2 separate regions of the Homo sapiens genome follow, and region 2 is linked to region 1. The links come from fine-mapping of genetic effects on gene expression. A gene starts in region 1. The other region holds a variant in brackets. All regions are shown on one strand. Distances are between the middles of the regions.

Region 1 (5,236 bases):
TTTTCCCAGGAAGGAAGGATGGACCTTCATTCTGAGATTCTAACCTTCTTACCCTGTGTTAACAGAAAGTGAAACCAAATTATTTTATGACATAAATGTCATAAAATCATAAAAATGGTCATTTTGATTCCCATCTCCCCACCATTGGCAAAATTAGAAGGTGGCAACCCTAGGCTGCTCTATTTGGTTGGTTGGTTGGTTTTTTATTGGCCCAAGAAAAAAAAAAAAGGAAACCAAAGGTTTCTCTGGGGAACTAGAGACAGAAACCAGCTAAGGGAAGAAACAGGAGAGAAAGAAGTGAACACAGCAGGTGTACACTTTTTTTTTAGACTGAAGGTGTGGTTCCAGGACTGTGGCAATTGGGATAGCACATTCTAGACCCTACACCTGAAGCCAGACTTTCTAGGAGAGGAGCCTAGCGATCTGACTTAACAAGCTCCTCAGGTGATCGTGATGCACACCAATCTTAAAGAACCCGTGTACTTGCTCGTGAAGAGGCCATGAGAAAGGGAAGCAGCTGGAGAGCCAGATGGGATGATGGATGATTCAAAGGATGATTTTTATGGTTGTTGTTTTAATGTAGAAAATACCTGAGCTTTTCCATTTTTACTTTTTTATTGAAAGACAATATTCACATAGAAAAGTACACGTCATCAATGCCCAACTCAATGCATTTTCACACCCAGGGCACTCGTGTCACCAACACTCAGATTAAGAAACAACATCTCGGCCGGGCGCGGTGGCTCACACCCGTAATCCTAGTACTTTTGGGAGGCTGAGGCGGGCGGATCACCTGAGGTCAAGAGTTCAAGACCAGGCTGGCCAACATGGTGAAACCCTGTCTCTACTAAAAATACAAAAAATTAGCCAGGCGTGGTGGCATGTGCCTGTAATCCCAGCTACTCGGGAGGCTGAGGCAGAAGAATTGCTTGAACCCAGGAGGTGGAAGTTGCAGTGAGCTGAGATTGCACCATTGCACTCCAGCCTGGGCAACAAGAATGAAAACTCTGTCAAGAAAGAAAGAAGAGAAAGAAAAGAAAGGTAAAGGAAAAAGGAAAGGAAAGAAAGGAAGGAAAGAAAGGACATCTCCAGCATTCCAGAAACCCCCTGGTACCTCCTCCAGTCACTATCTGACTTCTAAGGGCAGACTGTTGTTGCTCTTTTGTTGTTGCCTGTTTGTGTACTTTGTGTAAATGAAAGCATATAGCGTGCGCTGTCTCCTGCCTGGCTGCTTTCCCTCGTCCTTATGCTTGTCAGACCTGTGTATATTATTGCATATAATTGTAGATCACTCACTCTCTTTGCTGCAGAGTGGTCCATTGTGACTTACATCATTCATTCTAACGATAATGGATGTTTGGGCACTTTCCAATTTGGGACTGTTACAAACAGCACTGTTTTGCAACAAGTCCTTGATGGGAATCCCAGAATGAATTTAGAAATGTTGGTTTCCAGGCTGTGGCGCTACCTTCTGGACAAGAGTCGCAAAACACGCACAGGGAGTTACGAACCAAGTTGCTCCTCAAAGAAACCCAGACCCAGAGTAGCCACAGGCTGAGCCTTGACCCCGGCCAGAGACCAGACACCCCTACGCCAGAACCTAGTCACGTGCAGACTCAAGCACGTGGGAGCTCTGACCCAAGCCACCGTGAAACCGTAGCTCTAATTCAAGTCCACAGTCCCTAGAGTCCCAGGTGGGTGGGATCCATGGGCTACATCCCCCAAGGGGAGGAGCCCAGCAGGTGCCCTGAGTATCAAGGTTGTGGCATTAAGGCTGAACTCCTTCTCGACCTCACTGAGCTGTGGCCCCTTACAGGCAGTCACCCCGGGAACCCTGTCGCGAGAGCTCCTCGGGCCTTGTGTCCTAATGGGGCAGGCTCACATGCAGCCTCCTTGGCCCCGTGCCCTGCCCAGACCTGTTCTGGATTCCACCCCCACCCTTCCCCAAGGTCGCTGCCACCTCCCACCTGCCAGGCTTGGGCAGGGCCTCTGAGACACAGCCGGAAAGGCTGGCAGGCAGGAGGGCTGGGGCGAGCACTGGGGGGCCATGGAGCGGGCAGAAGAGCCCGTGGTCTATCAGAAGCTGCTGCCCTGGGAGCCAAGCTTGGAGTCGGAGGAGGAAGTGGAGGAGGAGGAGACATCAGAGGCGCTGGTTCTAAACCCCCGGAGGCACCAGGACTCTTCCAGGTAAGTAAGGGAGGGGTCTGGGCACCAGGCTCCCCAGGCTTGAGGTTGGCAAGTCCCTCTCTCTGGAGCCCCTCAGGGGGACCAGGCGACTCCCCGCTGGGTTTAGCTCCAGGCACTGTACGGTCAATTTGGGGGAAAACCCAGGCTGTAGCCCGAGACTTGGCCTGACCCAATCAAAAGTCTGTGCATCTGGAGGGACATTTGTACCAAGCCAGCCTCTGTCCCATCTGCTGCTTTGTCAAAGGTCCCCAGCCCCCAAGTCCTGGTGCAGGAGGCACCTGCTGGGCAGGTTGGGGCCTGACTACGCCTGGCTGGGCCTGCTCCCCAGCCCCTTCTCTCCTGCCTGCCACACCCCACTGGGCCTCCCTCCCACCTGAGTGGACTCTGCCCCACCAATCTCCCCTCCAGAGGCTCCCTCCCTAGCTAGGCTCAGTTTCCCCAGATGCTTTCCCATCCCCATGTCTGCCCAAGATGCACCCGCTGCCAAGAAGCCCTTTCTCCTTGGCTGACTTGTGCTCCTCTTGCTAAATCAAACCTTTTGGGAAATATTCCCTGGGGTCTCTTGGGGTCCTTGGGCATCCCTCTGTCCCAGCCGTGGCTCAGGACACCCCCCCTCTGCAGGAACAAGGCTGGCGGGCTGCCCGGAACCTGGGCCCGTGTAGTGGCAGCCCTGCTGCTGCTGGCTGTTGGCTGCTCCCTGGCTGTGAGGCAGCTCCAGAATCAGGGCAGGTCGACAGGAAGCTTGGGCTCTGTGGCCCCTCCACCCGGCGGACACTCCCACGGCCCTGGCGTATACCACCACGGTGCCATCATCAGCCCTGCAGGTCAGTCAGTGCTGGGGGCGGCTTGGGGAGGGGAGGGTCAGGGGTCACCAGCCCAGCCTAGCCCCCCTCCTTGCTGCATGACAGTGCCTTCCTTGCTGCAGCCACATGCTCCCACCTAGGCCGAGAGCTGCTTGTTGCCGGGGGCAACGTCGTGGATGCTGGAGTTGGAGCTGCATTGTGCCTGGCAGTGGTGCATCCTCATGCCACGGGGCTAGGTCAGTGACCCCTGACCCCAGACTGCAACCCCAACCCACAGCCTGATCAGTGACCTGGAACTTAGGGAGTCAGTAGCACTGACCTCAAGACTGCTAAGTGAGCAGGACTTAGGGTTTGGGCAGCAGTCCAACCCCAGGCTATGACCCTTGAGCCCGGGTCTGTGGAACTTTGACCTCAGGCCTGGTCAGTAACTCCTGATCCCAGGCTCAGTCAAGGGATCTTGACTGAAACAAGTCAGTGACCCTTGACCTGCGGCTGCTGAGGGACCCCTCTGTCTCCTGCAGGTGCCATGTTTTGGGGCCTCTTCCACGATAGCTCCTCAGGCAATTCCACGGCCCTGACATCAGGCCCAGCACAGACCCTGGCCCCCGGCCTGGGGCTGCCCGCGGCTCTGCCCACCCTGCACCTGCTGCATGCACGCTTCGGCCGCCTGCCCTGGCCACGCCTGCTAGTGGGCCCCACCACGCTGGCTCAGGAGGGCTTCCTGGTGGACACACCCCTGGCAAGGGCTCTGGTGGCTCGGGGCACAGAAGGCCTCTGTCCACTACTTTGCCATGCTGATGGGACACCCCTGGGCGCTGGGGCCCGAGCCACCAACCCACAACTGGCAGCTGTGCTTCGCAGCGCAGCCCTCGCTCCCACCTCAGACCTTGCTGGGGATGCTCTACTGAGTCTACTGGCGGGAGACCTGGGGGTGGAGGTGCCCTCGGCTGTGCCCAGGCCCACTTTGGAACCAGCAGAGCAGCTACCTGTGCCCCAGGGCATCCTGTTCACCACCCCCAGTCCCTCAGCTGGCCCAGAACTGCTGGCACTGTTGGAGGCAGCCCTGCGCTCCGGGGCGCCCATCCCTGACCCCTGCCCACCGTTCCTGCAGACTGCTGTGAGCCCCGAGAGCAGTGCCCTGGCCGCCGTGGACAGCAGCGGCTCTGTGCTCCTTCTCACCTCCTCGCTCAACTGCTCCTTTGGCTCTGCACACCTGTCCCCAAGCACTGGGGTTCTGCTCAGCAACCTGGTGGCCAAGTCTACCACTAGTGCCTGGGCCTGCCCCCTCATCCTCCGTGGCAGCCTGGATGACACAGAGGCTGATGTGTTGGGGCTTGTGGCTTCAGGGACCCCTGATGTGGCCAGGGCCATGACTCACACCCTACTCAGGCATCTGGCAGCAAGGCCCCCTACCCAGGCCCAGCACCAGCATCAGGGTCAGCAAGAACCAACAGAGCATCCCAGCACTTGTGGCCAAGGGACCCTGCTCCAGGTGGCAGCCCACACAGAGCACGCCCATGTCTCCAGTGTCCCCCATGCCTGCTGCCCCTTCCAGGGGTTCTAACAGGATGGGGGTGGGTCTGGCAGAAGGCAGAGTTATCTGAAGCATGGGGGCAGGAGCAGAGCAGACACAGCAGCAATGGAGTGTGCACCCGCAGGGTGTGGTGCCTCACACCTGTAATCTCAGCACTTTGGGTGGTCAAGGCAGGAAGATACCTCGAGGCCAGGAGTTTGAAACTAGCCTAGACAACAAAGCAAGATCTCATCTGTACTAAAAATTTAAAAATTTGCCAGGGGCGGTGGCACATGCCTGTTGTCCCAGCTGCTTGGGAGGCTGAGGCAGGAAGCTCGCTTGAGCTCAGGAGTTCAAGGCTGCAGAGAGCTAGGATCACACCACTGCACTCCAGCCTGGACAACAGAGTGAGAACCTGTCTTTAAAATAATAATAATAATAATAAAAAAATAGCTGGGTGCGGTGGCTCATGCCTGTAATCCCAGCACTTTGGGAGGCCAAGGCAGGTGGATCACCTGAGGCTAGGAGTTCGAGACCAGCTTGGGCAACATGGCGAAACCCCGTCTCTACTAAAAATACAAAAAATTAGCTGGGCATGGTGGCGGGCACCTGTAATCCCAGCTACTTGGGAGGCTGAGGCAGGAGAATCACTTGAACCCGAGAGGTGGAGGTTGCAGTGAACCAAGATCGCACCATTGCAACCCCACCTGGGCAACAAGAGGGAAACCCTGTC
Region 2 (5,472 bases), 70 kb after region 1:
GCGCCCAGCCTGTCATCTTGTTTTAATTCCTGTTTTGTTTTGGTGCTGAGACTTCCTTCCTCTTCCTAACGGCACACTGGTCTGCTGGTCTTAATGCGGCTATAAACCAAGGCATGGGTATAGGATCCAAGCTAACCCAACTGGAATCTCTTGCCCAGGGCTTTAAATCTTGAGGAGGGTGGCAAAAGAATAGGGATAAAATATCTGGAGTTCTGGCACAGACCCCAAAATAATATGGCCCAGGAACCCTGGCTCCTGAATCTCCAACCTTCTCATCAATTCTATGAGTTCCTGATGTGCTTTCAATGCATCCTTTGCCTGGTAGAGGTAGTCAGTCTGTTTCCGTTGCATACAACCCCACAACCCAAACTGATATGGTCACACAGGAGCACACGCAGTCACACACCTGTCTGTGCTGAGATAAAGCATGGCTCCCGGAACCTCCAGCTGCCTGCTGCCAGCTTTGTCTGTAGAGGCTGCATTAGATTAAACAACCTCCCAAGCCCACCCAGGCACAAAGCAAAGTCAAACACTTCAGGGAATGAAACAGACCAATATTTGATGTTGCAGAGCAACAAGCCAGGGTTAGGGTGTGGGAATCCAGACACACAGGTTCAACCCCCTCAACCTTCAGGACAAAGTGGAAAAAGAGCTTTTAGGCCAGGCGCATTGGCTCACACCTGTAATTGTAGTACTTTGGGAGGCTGAGGCGGGTGGATTGCCTGAGCTCAAGAGTTCGAGACCATCCTGGCCAACATGGCAAAACCCTGTCTCTACTAAAAATATGAAAAATTAAGGCTGGGTGCGGTGGCTCAAGCCTTAATCCCAGCACTTTGGGAGGCCGAGGCAGGCAGATCCCCTGAGGTCGGGAGCTTGAGACCAGCCTGACCAACATGGAGAAACCCCGTCTTTACTAAAAATACAAAATTAGCCGGGCGTGGTGGATGCCTGTAATCCCAACTGCTTGGGAGGCCGAGGAAGGAGAATCGCTTGAACCCGGGAGGCGGAGGTTGCAGTGAGCTGAGATTGCACCATTGCACTCCAACCTGGGCAACAAGAGCAAAACTCCGTCTCAAAAAAAAAAAAAAAGCTTTACTAATACCTGTTGGTATTGGTTCCAATAGCTAGCATACCCCCATGTGGCCACACGCCAACATGGTGATGCACACACAGGTACAGGCACACGCACACAGAGATACCTCCATGCCTGGATAATACCTGACAGCTGGAATGCAGCTTATGTCTGGAAAGAGCAATTAACACATAAAGAGAGTCAGGTCAGGCTTAAGGACTCATCCTGCTGAACAGCATTTTTCCTCCTCTTGACATTCCCAACAAACAAGTCCAGAGTATTCGTGGCTGAGATTACCCAACAAGGGCCTTTAGGCGAGGAAGATGTGTTCTGTTTACCAGACTCCACTCCAGCCTGAGTGGCTGGGTTCCCCCAGGCTGTTATCGTAACCTCGACCCACCAGGACTGGCCCCAAAGAGGCAGGAGGTGGGAGTCTGGGTTGGCTGCAGAGGAGATATTGGTCTCTGTCACTTGCCGCGTCCACCAGCCCCAGAGCTCCCACTCTGCCCCAAACCACTTTAGACAATAGCTTCCTATAAACTCCCAGCTGGGCACCTCGTGTGGCTCAGCCTTGGGAAGTACCGCCTTGCCCTGCCCAGCAACCCAAATATCAGAATGCACTTGAGTCATAAGAAACTACCCTGGATTATAGGATTAAAGCCCCAGCTCCTGGACCTACATCTGACGCCCCTCTGATCCCAGATGGCCTCTCTCACCTCCTCTCCCCGCTCAATGACACACGCACCCTCCTCTCTGGCCATACCACACCCCTCCATGACTCACTGCAAATCTTCTGCCCCACTCTCCCCCTCTTTGTGGGTCCATCCCCTGCATCTAGAATTCCCTTTGCCCCCCACCTTGTTACCAACTCCAAAGCCACTTCCTTGAAGGCTTCTGGGGCACGGAAGCCCTTACTCTGCCCATAGGTGTGCCACACTTGCCTGTCCTGCTGTGGGCTGCGAGGTCCAAGGGCAGGGCTGGAGTCTGATTCACTGCTGGACACCCTGATGGGCACCCGCCGATACCAATGCATGTTTGTAGAGTTGGCATGAACGAGGTTCTTGCTCTTCCTCTACTGGACTCTGGGTGGGGAGGTGGCAGCTGGTGTTCTTTTTTTTTTTTTTTTTTAAGACAAAGTCTCACTGTGTCACTCAGGTTGGAGTGCAGTGGTGCCATCTCCCTTCACGACGAACTCCACCCCCCATCCCCAGGATCAAGCGATCCTCCCACCTCAGCCTCCCAGAGCTGGGACCACAGATGCGTGCCACCACGCCCAGGTATGTTTTGGTATTTTTGGTAGAGACGGGGTTTCACCATGTTGCCCAGGCTGGTCTTGAACTCCTGACCTCAAGCAATACATCAGCCTCTGCCTCCCAAAGTGTTGGGATTACAGGCGTGAGCCGCTGTGCCCAGCTGAGTGTTCTGACCCTTGGGCGGCCCTCACTCATTTTCCGGGAGCCTCGCCTTGCAGGGGTCCTCCCTGGGGCTGTTGGGAGGAAGGTTCAGACCCTGGAGCTGGGCTTCTGTGGGTCTAGACCCAGCCTGTGCTAATCACATGAGGCCCAGGCTAGAAAGCCATGTCAACACACCTCTCAAACACAGCCAGGGAGTCAGGGAGCCACCTAGGTCACACAGCCAGTGAATGTTGAGAGGGACCGTGGCATCCTGGCTCCTGCCCAGTTGCTGCCTCCTTCTCAGGAAAAACAAAATATCCTCACAGATCTTTTACCTTGTAACTTGAAGGGCTGCCTGTTGCATAAGCTCCAAGCATT[G/C]AGTCACGGTCAAGGGCCTGGCTAGCCTGCAGGGAGGGCTGGCTGTGGTGCGGCCCTGCTCCTGGGGCTTGTTGCAGCCAACAGGGAGGGCTGGGGGGCACCCCACAGAAGGCAGGGACAGAGCAGCAAGCATCAGGGGCTGCGCAGGAGTCTCGGTCGTTGCTCTGCCTGCAGCTGCTGGGAGACAGGCACAGCCTGGCACAGCGAAGGTGGCCATCGGTGAGTGAGCAAGTGATCGCCTGGCTGGGCACCAGGGGAGGCGGAAAGAACATGAGAACAAGCCTCCCCACTGCTGCCCGCCTGGAAGCTGTCGATCTCCCACAGGGCCCGCTGAGCCCAGCTGCTCTGAACCCAGTGGCAAGCGTGGGCCCCGCAGAGCCAGCCCTCCCCATACGCTGTGCTGGGGTCAGAGCGTGGACCCAGGGAAGACCGGGGCTACAGAACTGGGCAGGCCAGGAGGATCCCTGCACGGCCACTCAAGTCCTCAGCAGGGTTCTGGGGCCGCTGCGCCCGTGTCTGTATAGGCGTGGGTTCCTCTGCGTGGTTCCCTGGAACTTGGAGCCACATCCCCACCCCAGCACCCAAGTGGAAACTCATCTCCAAGAGCAAGATTCAGCCCCCACGTTTTGTTCAAAGGGTGGAGTTGGCTGGGCACGGTGGCTCATGCCTATAATCTCAGCACTTCGGAAGGCCGAGGCTGGCGGATCACCTAAGGTCAGGAGGTCAAGACCAGCCTGGCCAACATGGTGAAACCCTGTCTCTACTAAAAATACAAAAATTAGTTGGGCGTGGTGGCACATGCCTGTAATCCCAGCTACTTAGGAGGCTGAGGCAGAAGAATCTCTTGAACCTGGGAGGCGGAGGTTGCAATGAGCCGAGATTGCGCCACTGCACTCCAGCCTGGACAAGAGCTAAACTCCATCTCAAAAACAAAACAAAACAAAGAGTGGAATCACGTAGAGGGTGTCCTGTGCCTGTGACTTTGCAGAATGGAGAAGCTGGGTCAGAGTGGGAGGTCCAGGCTGCGGACCCCTAGAGACCCATGCTGAGCCAGCCCCCCAGCTTCCCCACTTCAGGACAGCCCTGCATCCTTGGCCTGGACTGCCCATCCCGTCCTCACCCACTTCCCCTCCAGCAGAGGCACGAGAGGCTATAAATAACACGGCTGTCTACAGGCCCAAAATCCATGGGCTTTGTACTGGCCTCTCTTTATTCAGGGCCCAGCAGCAGCCAGGCTGGAGACCCCAGGCTGGGGCAGCCTTGAGCGGGATGCAGGCACAGGCCCAGGCCTCCCACGCAGAGTGCTGACAGCTCCATTCCCAGCCCAGCCACAGGGTCCTGCCAGCTCTCCAGCCGGGAATTCAAAAGTGGCAGATGTGCCTCAGCCGGAGTCCCCGAGGACAGCCAAAGAGGAACCGAGGCACTGCTGCTGTGGGGACCAACGGGAGGCTTGCAGGCAGGACGAGTGTAGGCAGGGACCTCAGGGCTCCTCTGTAGAGGCGCCAGCGCCCGAAAGTAGGCCTTGTCTCTCCAGGTCGTTGCTGTCCACATCATTGCTGTCTGGGGTCCCTGCAGGAGGAAAGATGCTCAGCCTGCCCGAAGGTTGCAGAAGGTGCTTTGGGACCAGGCCTGGGCCTGGGCACGGGCTGTCAGGAAATCCTCTCTGTCCCAAATGCAGAATACATTCCAGATCCAACCCCTTGTCATCACCTTCAATGCCACTGGCGTGGTCTAGGCACCACTCTCCCCTGGAAGGGGAGTCGGCTATGCCTCTCGGCCTCAACACTGACCCTCCTACAGTCTGTTCTCAACACAGCAGCCAGGGAGATGCTTTGGCAACATCAATCAGACCACCTCGGTGCTCCTCTCCTGGAAGCCCCACAGCAGCTCCCGTCTCACTCTGAGCAAAAGCCACTGTCTTTACAAGGACTGCCTGCTCTGGCCCCGTATCCCTCACCCCTACCACTGTCCCTCTTGCTTCTGCTGCAGCCACACTGGCCTCCTTGCTGATCCTCAAACATATCAGGTGCATTCCCATGGCAGGGCCTTTGCATTGATTGTCCCCACTGCCGGAAGCGTCTTTCCCCAGGTCGCTGAACGGCTCACTCCCTCGTTTCCTCCAGATCTTTGCTCTAGTTTCGCCTGTGCAGTGGGGATCCTTGCAGCCTGCACCTACCTGTCCCTTTTTTTTTTTTTTTTTTTTTTTTGAGACAGTCTTGCTGTCGCCCAGGCTGGAGTGCAGTGGCGAGATCTCAGCTCACTATAGCCTCCGCCTCCCGGGTTCAAGTGATTCTCCTGCCTCAGCCTCCTGAGTAGCTGGGACTACAGGTGTGTGCCACCGCACCTGGCTAATTTTTATATTTTTAGTAGAGACAGGGCTTCACCATGTTGCCCAGGCTGGTCTTGAACTCCTAACCTTGTAATCCGCCCGCCTTGGCCTCCCCAAGTACTGGGATTACAGGTGTGAGCCACCGCGCCCGGCCCCTTTCTCCTTCCTTTCCTGCTTTATACCTCTCCATAGCACTCGTCACCCTGAACATGCTATATCTTTAACCTTTTCTGTTTCTGGTCTGTCTTCACCAACTACAGTGTCAGTTTCTACAGGGGCCTGGACTTGGCCTCATTCTT

What was found. PIP is the estimated chance that this variant, and not a neighbour inherited with it, causes the effect. A credible set is the group of variants that fine-mapping cannot tell apart.
Region 2: its variant is the best candidate, but not a certain one, in a credible set for the expression of GGT6 in thyroid (GTEx, PIP 0.90).

The regions. Positions count from the first base shown.
Region 1 is chr17:4,557,333-4,562,568 of GRCh38, reverse strand. GGT6 (gamma-glutamyltransferase 6) reads left to right here and starts at 1,992. Exons shown (of 4, transcript NM_001288702.2): 1 at 1,992-2,187; 2 at 2,809-3,011; 3 at 3,113-3,226; 4 at 3,512-5,236. The coding sequence starts at 2,048. The coding sequence ends at 4,554.
Region 2 is chr17:4,486,747-4,492,218 of GRCh38, reverse strand. SPNS3 (SPNS lysolipid transporter 3, sphingosine-1-phosphate (putative)) reads right to left here. Exons shown (of 12, transcript NM_182538.5): 12 at 4,015-4,413. The coding sequence ends at 4,325. SPNS2-AS1 (SPNS2 antisense RNA 1) reads left to right here. Exons shown (of 3, transcript XR_001752763.2): 3 at 2,228-2,346. Among named protein-coding and RNA genes, the nearest start is that of SPNS2-AS1, 9.3 kb to the left of the region's middle. RefSeq lists enhancers at 1,558-2,058, 1,369-2,568. The variant G/C (reference allele first, on the strand shown) is at 2,845.